Regions from separate parts of the Homo sapiens genome. Here region 1 is linked to region 2. The links come from fine-mapping of genetic effects on gene expression. A gene starts in region 2. The other region holds a variant in brackets. All regions are shown on one strand. Distances are from middle to middle.

Region 1 (2,912 bases), 90 kb after region 2:
CATTGCTGCCTGTCTCTCCATCTGGGCCTCCTTGGAGGGAAAGCAGGTCTCCTTTGTGCATGGGATGTCTCTGACTGTGCATTGGGTGGTGTCCATTGGAGAGCTGGTGTGGCACACTCCCTTCTGAACTCGAGCTCATGCTCACAGGTGTGAATCTTGCTTGCCTAATCTTTGTGATATGCCATAGGCAAAGAGAGCTGTCCAGTGGCGTGGGGTGCAGTCCCTATTTAATACTTGTTGACTTTATTAAAATGCAGGGATATCTTCTGGGCCAATTATCCAAAGGGCACAGAACGGAACTTGTTTGGAATAATGAAACCAATAACAGAACCTGACAGCCGTGATCCATGCAGCCAATGAGATGATTATCAACAAACAGCCTTTCCCTGGCTTCCTGCAGCCAGCCTGCTCATAACATCTTAAAAAGGCTCTGTTGTCATGATAAACCTACATGGTCATCAGTTTCCAAGGGCTGGTTCCCCTTAACATCTTGATCAGTTCTTAAAATTAATTATCATCAGGAACAAGTCAAATGATACCTCAGGAAGATCCTTTTAAACACTAACAGGCAGTGGTGGAGTGTCTAGATAAGGGAAAATAGATCAGCTGAAAGATGTTGTAATAAACCAGCAGAGCACCTTGATTAAGTGCCTGTGAATGCCGAATATCAGGAGCATGATAATAAAGGCATAAAATGGGAAGGCTTGCAAAGATAATAAGGTCTGTGGTGTGATGATTTGGGAAGTGGTGAAGCTAAGGGAGAATGTGAAGTTTTCACAGCTTGAGGAGACAGCTGGGACCCAGGCCAGCTATGTGGTGGCAGTGGGAGGTGGCTCATGGTGGCCATTGCTAGACCATATCTGATGTGCCTGGGCATTCCTTCCCACCACCACAGTACTCAGCCCTGGCCTGAAGCATAGGAGGTAGCTGGTAAATGCTAAACCAAGCTAAACTGAATTTCCATTCAACCATAGGTTCCCTAAGGGCTAGATGTCTATTTTGCTCAGCACTTATTAGTGAGCCTAGCATATAATAGCTGTCAAATGATGGAAGGAATGGAGTTCTGGTATGTATATCCTTCTAACCTAACAGAAACATAGGAAAGTCAAAACCAAAAAACAAAATTAACTTTCTCAACCCAATCATTGTGGGCACAATAGCTAGTCTCCCATGGCAGCTGCCATGTGCCTCTTACCCATGTAATATTCATCATGTGCCAAGTATTGCTAATTTATCATGTGTTAAAATGCTGCTAAGGCTAATTTTATTTAATCCTTATGGGCAACCCTAGGAGATGGGTACTATCATTATGCCATTTTACAGAAAGTGACACACAGCTAGCACATGGCAGATTTGAGATATGAGCCCAGGCTGTCTGACTCTAGATCCTGTGCTCTGAGATGCTAGGCCAGACTTCCTCCTCCAGATTTCCTTTAGCCCAGCACTCTTCAGCCTTATCCCATGGCAGCCTCCCTCTCCACCTGCATGCTGCCTATGGATCTGCGATTCCCCAAACCCATGGCTTTGGTTCAGCCTGCCTGCCTAGGGTTATGAAGCTTATGTCTCCTATGAAGGGTATAACAAATAGGATTGGTACAGACACTTTCAATGCCTCTAACAGTATTGCCTCCTTCCAGGCTTTTCATAAAGAAAGGGAAAACCCCCTTTGAGGATGGGGAGGTGGGGACCATAT[CT/T]TGTGCTTCCTGGATGGAGTCAGGGGTGGGTGGTCATGACACTTTGGAGATTGTATGGGGGACTGGAGGTGGCCTGGATTCCTTCAGACTTGGATTTCTTTCCCAGGAGTCTGATAGGCTGTGCTCTAAAATGTGTGTTTGGGGAAGGGGTTTGGGAGGGAGATGGGACTGACCTTCGTGAAACATAAATTGAGCACTAGGCACAGTGCTGAGGGCTGTCTTCCCACTCACCCAGTGAGGAAAGTGGAGTTATCCTCCCATTTTTTTGGTTGAGGAAATTGAGGCTCCCAGAGGCTAAGAAGCATGGGCAAGGCCATGCAGCTAGTAAGTGGTGGAGCTGGGCTGCTCCTGGTCTGTCTCATGTTCTTTCCTTGACATCTTATTCTGATTTCCAGGGGGAATTGGCTGTTGGTGGAGGCTGGTGTCCTTTACCATGACATAACATTAGAAAATGAGCTGCAGGTAGCCTTAAGAGTTATGCAGTTAAAAAAAATAAAGTAAATGGGGTCCAGAGAGGGTAAACATGTTCCTTTCACGTTGGCCACAGCTAGGAGCTTAAGCTGTTCCCCTTTCCCCTTACTTTTTCTCAAGAATGGGTTTGGATTAGAGACAAAGATAAGCTTTTTATCCCTGAGAAGGAGGGCAAGAACTGATGTGTTTCAAGGGCACTTAGGAGGTATTGCATGCTAGAGGTGGCACTGGCAAGGCAGGAATGATCACAGCAAAGGGCTGTGGTGTTTCTTCTTCAGCCTCAGTCTGCTGGGCATCATGGTTGGGCCTATATGAGAGGAAACATGTCCCTGTCTGTCTCTCTCCCCTCCACATCCCCACTCCTGACTATCTGATGGTAAGACCATACCACTCACCATCCATGGTGGGGTTGAGGGACACCTAGCCTCTTCTGTCTTCTATAATATATGGGGAGTGTCAGGAACACAGCACTGAATACCACAGCCAAGGTCTTTGTTCTCATGGGCCTTGTGGGCTAGTAGAACTAACAGACAGACATTAAGCCAGAAAACAAATAAATCATCTATTTTCAGTTAATGATAAGTGTTGTGAAGGAAATAAGTCAAGATGCAGTGAAAAAAATCTTCCAGGGAGATGAAATATCATCTACAAAGAGTCCCAGGTAGTGCAGAGCTTGGTCTGTTGCAGGGGCTGCAAGGAGGCCCTTGTGCCTGGAGCCAAGTGAGCAGTGGGGGTGGGGGCGGGAGA
Region 2 (2,912 bases):
ATAGGCGTGGGCAAGGACTTCATGTCCAAAACACCAAAAGCAATGGCAACAAAAGCCAAAATTGACAAATGGGATCTAATTAAACTAAAGAGCTTCTGCACAGCAAAAGAAACTACCATCAGAGTGAACAGGCAACCTACAACATGGGAGAAAATTTTCGCAACCTACTCATCTGACAAAGGGCTAATATCCAGAATCTACAATGAACTCAAACAAATTTACAAGAAAAAAACAAACAACCCCATCAAAAAGTGGGCGAAGGACATGAACAGACACTTCTCAAAAGAAGACATTTATGCAGCCAAAAAATACATGAAAAAATGCTCATCATCACTGGCCATCAGAGCAATGCAAATCAAAACCACTATGAGATATCATCTCACACCAGTTAGAATGGCAATCATTAAAAAGTCAGGAAACAACAGGTGCTGGAGAGGATGTGGAGAAATAGGAACACTTTTACACTGTTGGTGGGACTGTAAACTAGTTCAACCATTGTGGAAGTCAGTGTGGCGATTCCTCAGGGATCTAGAACTAGAAATACCATTTGACCCAGCCATCCCATTACTGGGTATATACCCAAAGGACTATAAATCATGCTGCTATAAAGCCACATGCACACGTATGTGTATTGCGGCATTATTCACAATAGCAAAGACTTGGAACCAACCCAAATGTCCATCAATGATAGACTGGATTAAGAAAATGTGGCACATATACACCATGGAATACTATGCAGCCATAAAAAAGGATGAGTTCATGTCCTTTGTAGGGACGTGGATGAAATTGGAAACCATCATTCTCAGTAAACTATCGCAAGAACAAAAAACCAAACACCGCATATTCTCACTCATAGGTGGGAATTGAACAATGAGATCACATGGACACAGGAAGGGGAATATCACACTCTGGGGACTGTGGTGGGGTGGGGGGAGTGGGGAGGGATAGCATTGGGAGATATACCTAATGCTAGATGACGAGTTAGTGGGTGCAGCGCACCAGCATGGCACATGTATACATATGTAACTAACCTGCACAATGTGCACATGTACCCTAAAACTTAAAGTATAATTAAAAAAAAAAATAGAAGTAAATTAAAAAAAAAAAAAAAAAAAAAAAAGATGTGAATGACCACGTTCCGGGCTGGGGCGGCCGGGCTGTCGGGCAGGCAGCGCGCGGCCACCAGGGGGCGCCAGAGCCTTGGCTCGCGCGCTCGGCCTCCTCCGCCCGCGGACGCCGCGCCCGAGCCAGCGAGCGAGCAGAGCACATCGCTGCGGGCTCACAAAGCGGCCAGACGCTCGGCGGCGGCGTGTGGCAGGAGCGCAGGGGCGCGAGCCGGCGATCAGCCTTCCCGGCGACCGTGCCGCGGGAGCTCGAGCAACTCGGACTAGGGGACCCGGGCCGGCCCCCAAGGTACGTGCCCAGAGGAACCCCGCGCCCCAACTTGGAGTAGTTGGGACCTCCCCGCGGCCGCCTAGGGGGCTGGCAGGGTCAGGGCCTGGGGTTACCTCCGCGCGCCTTTCTTACCCCCGAGACCTCAGGGCGCTCAAGGGAGACCTTTCCCTTAGCTGTCGCCGGGGACCCCCAGCTGCTGGCAGCCCCCACCCCGCTTGCCGGAGCTCGGGTGCTGCTGGAGCCCTGTTCTCCCCTCTCCTGCCCCAAAGCCGTGTGCACCGCACCGTCTGTGGGAGTGCGGCGTGCGGACCCGGGCTCCCCGCTTCTGGGGAGGGGTACCAAGCCCCTGATAGGAGGGCGGCATCTGTGGGGCACTCGGAGAATAGACGAGACGGGTCCCCTGTAGTTGGACGGCAGCCTCGGATTCGTGACGCAGCCTCCTCGTTCGTAGATGAGTCCCCCATTCGTGAGAGGGGTCCCTGGGTCTAGAGGCGCGACAGGCGCCCCAGGTGCGCGAGCGCTGCCCGTGCCCGCCGCGGGGTCCCCGCCTCCGGGCTGGGGCGCTGGGACGCCTGGGTGCCCGGGGCTCGCGGCCGCCCGCCCTCTTCGCTCATCGCCCTGCGCGCCCTGCCCCGCAGATGCCGGCGATCGCGGTGTTGGCGGCGGCCGCCGCGGCGTGGTGCTTCCTCCAAGTCGAGAGCCGGCACCTGGACGCGCTCGCCGGAGGCGCGGGCCCCAACCACGGCAATTTCCTAGACAATGACCAGTGGCTGAGCACCGTCTCCCAGTACGACCGGGACAAGTACTGGAACCGCTTTCGAGACGTGAGTACCGGCGCCACCCGGCCCTGGGGGGCGCGGAGCCTCTCGGAGGGGACCCCTGAAGCGGGGTTGGGGTGTGTGTGTGTGTGTGTGTGTGTGTGTGTGTGTGGTTGGGAGGGGGACAGGTGGGCATCTCCCGCGGGGGCTGGTCGGTCCCAGCTTCCTGGGTGCGGTCTTGCCTGAAAGGAACTTTAAAGAGAACTTCGAAGGCTCCATGCGCTTGCCTGTTACCTGTGGCCCAGGTGTGTGTATTCGTAGGGCTGCGGGAGGTGACTGCACTAAAATACAGCACAGATCACCAGTAGCTGTGGAGAAAGAGGTTCTCTGAGCTTCCGACTTCTCCTAACCGTGATGGTAGACTTTCCCTAGCTCCGGAGAAAACCTCCCCGGGGCAGCGGTGGCGTGGACCATCTCTGGGGTGTGTCAGGAGAATCCCTACTGGAGAGGTTGGGTCTGGGAGTGGTCCAAGCTATTTATGGGGGAGCTATTTATGGGAGTCAGGTGTTGCATGTGTGTGTGTGTGTGTGTTGAGGGAGGCGGTCATGGCAATGGGCCTGATAAAATACAGGGGAGGTGGGGTGGTTTGACCCTCGGAATCTTGAAACAGGAACAACTAGCCCGTGCAGTTGGTCCCCTGCCCTGAAAGGGACCCTGGGTGGCAGAGCATTGCTCCTCCGTGGGAGCCCTGGGAGTGGA

Which allele goes with the higher level. Alleles are on the strand shown, and positions count from the first base shown. SD is a standard deviation of normalised expression in the study named.
In carriers of allele CT in region 1, the expression in putamen of the gene that starts at base 1,266 in region 2 tends to be higher than with T alone (large effect, 0.82 SD a copy in GTEx).

The links. PIP is the estimated chance that this variant, and not a neighbour inherited with it, causes the effect.
Region 1: its variant is the best candidate, but not a certain one, in a credible set for the expression of SPOCK1 in putamen (GTEx, PIP 0.70).

What each region holds. Positions count from the first base shown.
Region 1 is chr5:137,407,939-137,410,850 of GRCh38, reverse strand. The region is part of intron 2 of SPOCK1 (SPARC (osteonectin), cwcv and kazal like domains proteoglycan 1); the gene reads left to right. Among named protein-coding and RNA genes, the nearest start is that of SPOCK1, 90 kb to the left of the region's middle. The variant CT/T (reference allele first, on the strand shown) is at 1,694.
Region 2 is chr5:137,497,680-137,500,591 of GRCh38, reverse strand. SPOCK1 (SPARC (osteonectin), cwcv and kazal like domains proteoglycan 1) reads left to right here and starts at 1,266. Exons shown (of 11, transcript NM_004598.4): 1 at 1,266-1,413; 2 at 2,034-2,219. The coding sequence starts at 2,034. RefSeq lists a silencer at 1,096-1,315.